3 linked regions of the Homo sapiens genome follow. The protein of the gene in region 1 interacts with the protein of each later gene in a biochemical or structural test. Each region holds a gene or a part of one and is shown in the gene's direction. Other genes may lie near its edges.

What was found.
Region 2: the proteins of SLX4 (region 1) and UBE2I form a complex in vitro, tested with the Homo sapiens proteins (2 studies listed by BioGRID).
Region 3: the proteins of SLX4 (region 1) and SUMO3 form a complex in vitro, tested with the Homo sapiens proteins (one study listed by BioGRID).

What each region holds. Positions count from the first base shown.
Region 1 is NC_000016.10:3,590,957-3,594,606, reverse strand, and holds part of SLX4 (structure-specific endonuclease subunit SLX4), read left to right. Parts: intron 1-7; coding exon 8-154; intron 155-1,741; coding exon 1,742-1,908; intron 1,909-3,296; coding exon 3,297-3,650. UniProt on the Homo sapiens protein: Regulatory subunit that interacts with and increases the activity of different structure-specific endonucleases.
Region 2 is NC_000016.10:1,316,006-1,319,655, forward strand, and holds part of UBE2I (SUMO-conjugating enzyme UBC9), read left to right. Parts: intron 1-3,650. UniProt on the Homo sapiens protein: Accepts the ubiquitin-like proteins SUMO1, SUMO2, SUMO3, SUMO4 and SUMO1P1/SUMO5 from the UBLE1A-UBLE1B E1 complex and catalyzes their covalent attachment to other proteins with the help of an E3 ligase such as RANBP2, CBX4 and ZNF451.
Region 3 is NC_000021.9:44,805,021-44,808,116, reverse strand, and holds the end of SUMO3 (small ubiquitin-related modifier 3 isoform 1 precursor), read left to right. Parts: intron 1-1,076; coding exon 1,077-1,166; 3' UTR 1,167-2,500; downstream 2,501-3,096. UniProt on the Homo sapiens protein: Ubiquitin-like protein which can be covalently attached to target lysines either as a monomer or as a lysine-linked polymer. Does not seem to be involved in protein degradation and may function as an antagonist of ubiquitin in the degradation process.

The sequences.
Region 1 (3,650 bases):
GCTTCAGCTCTCCCTCGGGCTGCTGGTTGCTGACTTTGGCGCCATGGTCAATAACCCACACCTGAGTGATGTCCAGTTTCAGACGGACAGCGGGGAGGTGCTTTACGCCCACAAGTTCGTGCTTTATGCCCGATGCCCGCTCCTCATCCAGTATGTAAGTACGTGGGCTGCCGTGTGCCCTCCTTTCCTCTCTCTCCCTCTCTCCTCCTGCCTTTCTCCAACCAGGTCTTCCCATGTCTCAGGTGCCCTTTCCACCCCCCCACTCTCCCTCACTTCCTGCCCCACCATGTTCTCACCTTCTCCCTCCCAACCATCCGTTTCTGCAACACGTGGAGAAGAGATAAAGACCCACGCTTGAGGTTAGGAGTGGGTGTGAGGGGATGGCCTCACAACTGGGAAACATCAGTGTTTTCGTTCTGTTGAATGAAAATCCATTGTTTGGCCGGGCGCGGTGGCTCACGCCTGTAATTCCAGCACTTTGGGAGGCCGAGGCGGGCAGATCACAAGGTCAGGAGATCAAGACCATCCTAACACAGTGAAACCAGTCTCTACTAAAAATACAAAAAAATTAGCCGGGCATGGTGGCGGGCGCCTGTAGTCCCAGCTACTCGGGAGGCTGAGGCAGGAGAATGGCATGAACCTGGGAGGCGGAGCTTCCAATGAGCTGAGATTGCACCACTGCACTCCAGCCTGGGCGACAGAGCAAGACTCTGTCTCAAAAACAAAACAAAACAAAAAGAAAATCCATTGTTTCCCAGAATTGTTTTCTCTTTTCTCTATTTGCATAATTACAAAGGCTCATAATTGATCTCCTCAGGGATGAGTTGCTGATGAACCTGCCTTCTGACTTGAAAGCATTTGACTTGAGTGTGGGCAGGAACTCAGGGAGCTATTCTCAGTCTTTGTCAAAGTTCTGGATCCCATATGTGTCTATCAGGAGGACTCTTAACGGGGTCCTGGAATATCTAGTCCCAATACGATTTGACAAAAGAGGAGTGTTAGGCCTCACCTGTAAAATTATTGGCCAAAAATCTGCATAAACAGTGGCTAATGCTTTTCCTGGGGCATGGAGCTGCTTTTAAGACTAGGGACCAGGCACGGCGGCTCATGCCTGAGATCCCCGTACTTTGGGAGACTAAGGTGGGAGGATCGCTTGAGGCCAGGAGTTCAAGACCAGCCTGAACAACACAGTGAGAGCCCATCTCTACAAAAAAATTTAAAAATTAGCCTAGGGGCTGGGCGCAGTGGCTCACGCCAGTAATCCCAGCACTTTGGGAGGCCGAGGAGGGTGGATCACCTGAGGTCAGGAGTTCCAAGACCAGCCTGGCCAACATAGTGAAACCTTATCTCTACTGAAACTATAAAAAATTAGCCGGGCATGGTGGTGGGCGGCTGCAATCCCAGCTACTCGGGAGGCTGAGGCAGGAGAATACGCTGGAACCGAGGAGGTGGAGGTTGCAGTGAGCCGAGATCTCACCACTGCACTCCAGCCTGGGCAACAGAGAGAGATTCCAACTCAAAATAATAAAATTAATTAAAATTTAAAATTAGCCTAGGAGTTCAAGGCTGCAGTAAGCCATGATCACACCACTGTACTCTAGCCTGGGTGACAAGGGGAGACACTGTCTCTAAAAAGAAAAATAAAAAGACTAGTGACTTGCAGGACACCCCAGACCGTCTGCTTTGCTCCAAGTTACAACTCTCTGATCAGTAAACCCTCTGTGTTGCATTTCACCTGCAGGTGAACAATGAAGGCTTCTCCGCTGTAGAGGACGGGGTTCTGACCCAGCGTGTCCTGCTGGGTGACGTGAGCACCGAGGCCGCCCGCACGTTCCTGCACTATCTCTACACTGCGGACACTGGCCTTCCTCCTGGCCTTAGCTCTGAGCTGAGCTCCCTGGCCCACAGGTCTGGATTGCTCCCCAGCTTTTGAAATTAACTGACGAGGACTGGCAGGTTAACAGCTCTGGAGGGTTGTGCTGCAGAGGGCTCGGGGCTGAGGCCAAGAGAACTAACAGTCCTGTTTATACCTTTTAATCCCAAGTCCATGACCAGTGATGACCCTGTGGAACAGGGCATGTTAGGTGAAAGTCAGGCCAGAACAGACCCTTGCAGGGGTGCCAAGCACTGGATCAGGAGGACTCTATTGAGTCCCGTGGTTTTTAACCCCCTAGGTGTGATAAGAGAATGGCCCTTGGCTACAGCGCCCCCCAACACTGCTGCTCAGTGATTGTTCCACCACTAGACCTGAACAACAGCAGTCCTTTCCAGAGTCCCATAAAACAGGCATGGAGAGAATGCTTAGGCTGCATCCCAGATGCCACAGCTCTCCTGGCTTGTCCAGCCAGCATCTTAGGAGAGAGGCAGCAGCTCAGAGGGACAAGTGTTGTGCCTCTGGACAGGGCCTGGGCCGCTGATCCGAGCCTGCGTCCTCCCTCCGCTGCTTTCTTAGGAAAGGAACAGCTCAGCCTCTGGAGTTGGAAATATACTGACGGGCCACAGAGCCTTCAAGCAGGTGGCTGGCTGGCTTGCCCGTTGGCCTGGGCTGACTCAAGGACTTGGTGTGCTGTGGATTGTGTCTGATGCCATGTCTTTTCATTTATTTTTTATTTTTTGGAGAGACGGAGTGTCGCTGTGTTGCCCAGGCTGTTCTTGAACTCCTGACCTCAAGCAATCCTCCTGCCTCCGCCTCCCAAAGTGCTGGGATTATGGGCATGAGCCACCATGCATGACCTTTTTTATCCTTTTAGAGACAGAGTCTCTTGCTGTTGCCCAGGCTGGATGGCAGTGGCATGATCACAGCTCACTGTAGCCTTGAACTCCTAGGCTAATTTTTACATTTTTTTGTAGAGATGGAGACTTTCTATGTTGTCCAGGCTGATCTCAAACTCCCGGCCTTGAGTGATCCTCGGCTTCCCAAAGTGCTGGAATTTCAGGCATGAGCCACAATGCCTGGCTCTGACACCATATCTTAAGAGCCTCTGAGGCAGCACAGACTCCCCAGTTTTGTAGCTCTGCCAATCCCTGTTACCTTACATTCAGTCCGACACACCCCTTTATGTCTGCAGCTATAGTTAGGAAGCCCTGCTTTAAGTGTTGTCAGTCCCCGGTTTCTGGAACTAAGTGGCCTGGGTGTTTCTGGCAAGGAGTGTGGACACCGTCTTCAAAGGGAAGCAGGGCCTGGGTCATGGTCATTCCTCCTGGTGAAGACTCTGCTCTGGTCCGCCACCCCACCGGGGCACCCAGAGCCCATCTCCACGCAGAGGGGCGATGACTGTCGATGTTTCGTGTTGCAGGTTTGGCGTGAGTGAGCTCGTTCACCTGTGCGAACAGGTGCCTATTGCCACTGACTCAGAGGGCAAACCATGGGAGGAGAAGGAAGCAGAGAATTGCGAAAGCAGGGCCGAGAATTTCCAGGAACTCTTGAGGTCAATGTGGGCAGATGAAGAGGAGGAAGCGGAGACTTTGTTGAAATCCAAGGACCACGAAGAAGATCAAGAAAACGTGAATGAAGCAGAAATGGAAGAAATTTATGAATTTGCAGCTACTCAGCGAAAGCTTCTCCAGGAAGAAAGGGCAGCGGGTGCCGGCGAGGACGCTGACTGGCTGGAGGGTGGCAGTCCGGTTTCTGGGCAACTCCTAGCAGGTGT
Region 2 (3,650 bases), 2.3 Mb from region 1:
GCAGGGAGAGGCTGTGAGATCCAGGCTGGAGCTCCTGGGCTAGGAGTGCCTGGACCCTCAGTGATTGTTGGCGATGAAGACAGGATTTGGTGCCCACAAGACCCCAGCCCTGGATGGGATGGACGTGCAGAAGCGCCACCACTCCGAGTCTCACTGGAGGGTTTATCTTGCCCCACCTCACTGCTCTTCCTGTGGGCTCTCGCAGTCTCTCCCACCCGGGGCTGCGTCTGCAGCCGGGCAGGCATAGAGCAGGGGAGCAGCAGAGAAGGCGCGAGAAGAAAGGGCTGAGGCCAGGTTCGACTTTGAGCCTACAGCTAAGTTAGTGATCTCAGTCAGTTCAGCAAAACTCAGGAGAGGGAGGAGAGGGCCGCCACGTCCCTGCCGTCCCATAGCTGGAAATCGGCAGGCCCTTTCTGTGGTGAGTTCCACGCATTAACACGTGCCCAGCACCTAGACAGCGCCTGGCCACGGTGAGGCGAGAGTGCTGTGTAAAAGCTTCCACTGCAATTGTCACTCAAGACACACAAGTGTTTTCCACAGTGGCAGTGACCAGAGGAGCTTGAGGACTGCTGACAGCACCAGCTGGTCGAGACTTGCTTCATTTTTGGATTGTCCTTTGCTGTTTGATTTTTTTTTTAAACCATGAGCAGGTATTACTTAAGATGACTTATTTTAATTAAGAAAAATATAAGAATGAGACACAGTAGCTGCTTTCATTGATTCTGTTCAACCGTTGATTGGAATTCCAAGCAAATGCAGCAAGACAAGAAAAAGAAGTCACAACGGAAGAGGTGGGGAGGAAGGCCAGGACAACAGCTCAGTAAAGCTGAGGTGCAAGGCTGGGCACGGTGGCTCACACCTGGAATCCCAGCACTTTTGGAGGCCGAGGTGGGAGGATCACCTGAGGTGAAGACCAGCCTGGACAACATGGTGAAACCCTGTCTCTACTAAAAAAAACAAACAAACAAACAAAAATTAGCGGGTGTGGTGGTGGGTGCCTTTAATCCCAGCTGCTCGGGAGGCTGAGGCAGGAGAAGTGCTTGAATCCAGGAGGCGGGTCCAGTGAGCCGAGATCGCGCCACTACACTCCAGCCTGGGCAGCAGGGCAAGACCCTGTCTCAAAAAAAAAAAAAGAAAAGAAAAGTAGCACAGGACCTGGTAAAGGAAACAAAGCTAAATAATAAATATAAAAATGAAGTCGAGATTGAGGTACACAAATCTGCTTTTATATCATTTCAGCGAGCAAGGTTTTAAAACTGCCATTTATAGTAGCATGAAATACGTTGGAATAAATGCAATAAAAGATTGGTTCAGGACCTCTGTACCGAAAACTGTAGAATATTGCAAGGGAAACCAAGGCCGGCCTGAGCGGTAGCTGAGCTCTGCCGTGTGTGTGGAGGGGAACACACGACATTGTACAGACAGCCCTTCTCTCCAGGCTCGTCTGCAGATTCCATGTGATCCCAGTTGGAGTCAAGCACATCTTGTTGGAAACTGTCCCATGGACCCAGGAAATGCAGAAACGTGGAGGCCTTGGCTTCTTGGTGGGGTGGCGAGACCCAGGCTGAGGCTCCGTGGGTGCAGAGCACACCCACCCACCCCCCACTAGACCTGCCACGGGACACGGTGATGGAGACTGCAGGCTTGCTGAGAAGACAGGCAGGCAGACCCGCGGACAGAACGAGGAGTCCGGAGGCCACGCATGTGGTGGTTTGGGCTGTGACACCTGAGGGATATTCCAGCAGGAGAGACGAGCTCTGCCTCCCACCATAGAGAAACAGCTTCCAGATGGCTTGTGGTGCCCAAGCAGGACAGCGTGGAGAGGAAGACCCGGGATGGTGTCCGTGAGCCCTGGGCAGGCAGGGATCTCTTCACCAGGGATGCAGTGAAGTGCTGGCCGGAGGGAGATTGACGAGTTGACTAAGTTGAAATTAAGAATCTCTCTTTATCATAAAGACTGCAGTTGGCGCCGGGCAGGAGGGCACACTACAGTGTATGTACGTACCTCAGCCCTCACCCTGAATCTACCAAGAGCTCCTGGGAATCAGTAAGAAGGCTGCCATGACGTCCAGCGTGTCCCTCACAGGAAAGGCCTCCACCCAGCCAGCAAATGCGGCAGGGATGCCTGGCTTTGCCAAAGAGTGAAAGCCTCCCCAGTGGGATCTGCCGTAGCGCACAGGGGAGCAGACGGAGCCGCGGCGCAGGGCAGCGGGAGCCTCAGCCACCGCTGGAGAGAGCGGATGTTCTGAACGTTTCCCCTGGACGCTGCCTGCCACACCAGTGGAAGCTGAGCTCATGCTGTAGGACCTGGCTGTTCACTTGAGTCAGTCGAGATTCACAGAAGCACATACATGTGTCCACCAGAGGCACAGATGGGTGCCGGTGTCACCCCCACTTGCCCCAGCCCAGACGTCCTAGGATGACAGGTAGGGAAGAGTGAAGAGGCCACATGATGCCTGGCGGACAGTCCAGACAGGAGGGCACCCCCTTTGTGTTCCTTCTTTGAAGCGCGGGAGCGGCCAAGCCGGAGGCCATGAGGAAGTAGGAGGCAGCCTCTACCTTGGGAGGGACAGGTGGACCTGGCAGTGCTGGCATCCAGCATCTGTGCCTTTCTGCGGGTAAGTTGTGATCGGCAGAAGAAACGAGATTGAGAATCAGATTAAATTGAAATTAGGCAATTTTTGTTTTTGCCAAAAGATTCCCTTAGAAGAGGAAAAGGTCGGGCCGGGCGCGTTGGCTCACACCTGTGATCCCAGCACTTTGGGAGGCCAAGGCAAGTGAATCACTTAAGGTCAGGAGTTTGAGACCAGCCTGACCAACAGTGGAGGAACCCCGGTTCTAATAAAATAGAAAAATTGGCCAAGCTTGATGGCGGGTGCCTGTAACCTCAGCTACTCTGGAGGCCAAGGTGAGGCGGGAGAATCACTTGAGCCCGGGAGGTGAAGGCTGCAGTGAGCCGAGATCCAGCCTGGGCACCACAGTGAAACTCCATCTCAAAAAATTAAAAAAGCAAAAAGTCAAGCCCCAAGCAGAAGAGCCCTGTAAGACGTATCGCTTGAGGAACTTCTGCGAAGCAGTCGCCAGGAAGCAGCCTGGGCCGAAAGGGGCGCTCAGCGGTCACCAGCAGGCGCAGCGTAGCACCACGGAGTGGCTGCCGTGCACCTCACCCGGTGGCTGGAATCCGCCAGCGACGCAGCCTGCGTGAGCAGCCTGGAAGCAGCACGGCTTGAGGGCCAACACCGTCACCCCACATTCCACAGCAGCGCGCTCACGCGTGTTCGCACTCAGGACAGCCACGCAGCTGCTGGTGTCGCCCGTGTGCTCCTGCGGTGTGGGATGGTCGCGGTGTGGGACGGTCTGCGGTGGTGTCTTCGCGTTCCCCAGGGAGTGTGCCCTGTGCATCTCCATGGTACCTGAAGTCCAGGAAGCTGCCTGCGGATGTTGCAGTTGGGATTACGGGGCAGATGCAGTGGTCGGTAGGAGCGAGTGTTCGGGGAAGCTGTAGGTGTTCGTGGCGCGTTGGCTTTCTGGTAATTCCTCCGGCTGCACTAGACATGCCGCACTGTGTGTCCTTCCGTAGCATTGAGAGAGAAGAGGGAGGATGCCCAGGTAAAAGATGGGAAATAGCCTAGAATATCAACTGTGATGGT
Region 3 (3,096 bases), on another chromosome or scaffold:
TAAATGGAACCAATACCTGCTTTTTCTCCCTTTCAATGTTGTGAGAATCCACTGGAATGTTTTATGTGGAAATATTTTTGCAAAACATTTAAGATTTTAAATATTTACTATTCAGTATTTAATAAATATTGAAAACATCTTTGCAACAAGTATCCATTTGTACCTACTTGAGGAAACCTACACACCGCTGAGGCAGTGGCAGCTCTGGGAGTGTTCACCAGGGAGAAGCTGCTGAGAGCAGCTGAGCAGGGAGGGCCTCGTGGAGTCTCTGGGGCTTGACTGGGGGTCAGGGGGCTGGCTGTGGACAGGTGGACCGAGAGGCAGAGGGAGCCCTGCCTGGGGGCTCTCCCTCCAGCCCATAGTGTCGGTGGCAGGGTGAGGGTGGCCGACAGCCCTGATGGGACTCCTTTCCATCTGGGAGCATGACTACTTCCAGCCTTGCTGAGTCTGTGTAGGAACTGGCAGAAGCTTCCTCTTGCTTAGAGGATGGAAGAAGATCAGGGTGGGTGTTTTGCGCCCACTGTGTCAGGAGGAGAGAAGTGAGCGGGGGTGTTTCACTACCTTGCCTGGGCTTTAAATGGGGAGGGGCGGGGAGAAGCTGGCAATGGACCCTCACTTGACGGGCCCTTCTGTGAGCTGGGGGCTTTGGCTTTCATGGCATGGTCCCCCGCACTTGGTATAAAGCGCAAGGCTCCTGTGGGTCCTAGGACTCAGTGCTGCTAATCAGATGTTCTTAATTAGAATCTGATTTTGTGTAATTTTCAGTAAGAATTTTAGACATTTCAGTTTATCTTCTAGACTCAGTTTTTCTCTCAGTTAACATTTTAGCTTTGAATCTGCTTTTGTGAGTTTTGTTAGGGGAAGCTTGTTGAACCGTAAGGGCTGTAGTGAGCATACAGCAATGCCTCTTCCATGCGTGCTGAGCTGCAGTGAGGGGACGGACAAGAGCCAAGGTGTGACCAGGTGATGTCGCTAGTGTCAGGGAACACTCATGCCAGTGAGGATCTTCCCACTCTCTGATGAAAACTAACAGGCTCCCCTCTCTCTCGCTGTGCCTGTTGTGACAACCATGACAGCTGGAGATGGAGGACGAGGACACCATCGACGTGTTCCAGCAGCAGACGGGAGGTGTGCCGGAGAGCAGCCTGGCAGGGCACAGTTTCTAGAGGGCCCGTCCCCAGCCCGGGCCGTCCATCCTCGCATTGCTGTTGAATGGTGAGCACGTGACCATGCCGACCACAAAGGTGTCTGCGGAAACTCGAGGACATTCACCACGATGATTTTCCTCTCTTTGATGTACTTCAAGTGCAACTCAAAACTATATCTGCAGGGATGAATCTGTAACTTAAATTGGGCCAATCAGAATTGTTATCTTTGTTCAGGTAAAATGAGTTGCAAGATATTGTGGGTACTTTTGTGTGCTCATTTGTGTTTTCCCCCCCTCCTACAACATTTTTTTAACCCCAAAATTATAGCCTGAATGTTCGCTTTTAGTCTGGCCAGGGATCTGACTCCTGAGTTGGTTGCCTCTCCCCTGCTCACTCCAGTCACATAGAGAATTGGTGTTTCCCGCAGTGGGGATGCAGCTGTTGGACAGGTATTGGGGGCAAGGTTGGTAGGGAGGACAGACTGTCACTTGCTGTTACAGGCACAGGTGATTAAAATGCTAAATATTGCAAATTTAAGCTTTGTCAGTATATGGAAAAGTTGAAGGGAAAATACTGGAATGCTTCTTCAAAGGTTAAAAAATAACCGAGTCTTTTGGTAATTTGACCCCACGTGCTCTCTGGCCCTCAAGCATGTAACCTCGGGGTCTGAGGCCCAGGACCCACCCCCCTGCCACCCCTCCCACCCCACTCCCTGCTCAGTACCTGGCGTTGGTACACAGGCAAGGATTGGCACAACCAAAATTGGCCTTTTTCTCCCTCTTAATATTGAAGAAATTCCCACATTTCTCATTTGGTAATGGTGTTGTGGCCTCAGATTTCTTCTAGTATTTGCTTCTGATGAATGATTATGGTCTATACATAAAAAAGTAAGACTAAGTATTGCTGAATTTGCAGTTATGTTGTCGTGTATAAGAGCTACTTCCAAGTGTGGTTACAAATGAACCCATGGAATGATGACTTCATGTTCTTCTCGTGGGTTTGTGCCGTGCTGCTTTCCAAATAGGTATTGAATTTATGCATTAGTCTGGTGATTTCAGTTCTGTGAAATATTTTGGGATCTATACCAATTAAACATTTTCATAGTTCTGCCTATTGTCCTTCCCTGAGGCTCCATTGCTGCTTGGTGGCCATTCTCTGCCTTTTTACAGTCACCTGAACAATGACCCATCATCTCTTGCTTGCTTGAAATCTTGCTGAAATGTTCTCATTTCCTGTTTGCTGTATGGGCTCGGGTGGGATGTTTGTTGGCTCTGTTGTGTTTATTCACCAATTTGTACATTATTTGTTGTCCTTTACTACTGTAAACAGTAAATATAGTTTGGTATTCTGTCTCTTGGCTTCTACTAAACACTGCATTTGAAGGTTGGGGCATACTGGTACAATTCAGTGTTTGAATTGACCATTCCAGGCAGCCACTGCACTGAGAAACTTTGATTGAAAAGCTAGCCGCTGGAAGGTTAGTATTCGCCTGGCAGCTCATTTCCCCTCCCCTGGCACATCACCAATGCTAGTCCAGCCTTCTTCCTGCTGAGGGATGCATCCTCTCCTCAGAGACCTCCTGGCTGACAGCTGTCTGAGCTGGCATCACTGTGACATGTTACCCTCCCTCTCCTGGGTTTCGTATGTAAAGAAAGGGTGGATTTTAGAGGCAGGTGAGCTTGGGTGTTAGTCTAGGACATCTCTCGTTTTCTGGTGTTTGAATGTAAGTCAGCTTTCCTTCTGCCATGGACAACTTACCTATCTGCTTTGAAACTGAACTGACATTGATTTGGCTTTAAGAATTTCCCAGTGTGCAGTGGTGTAACAAAACCCAGGTTGAAAATGAGCTGTTTTAGCCCATCAGTTGAATGAACCCAAGGTGAAGAAAGATGGGCAGCTGTGGAGATGGAACACGTGATTCACTTGCACCAGGAAGAGTGCACGGATT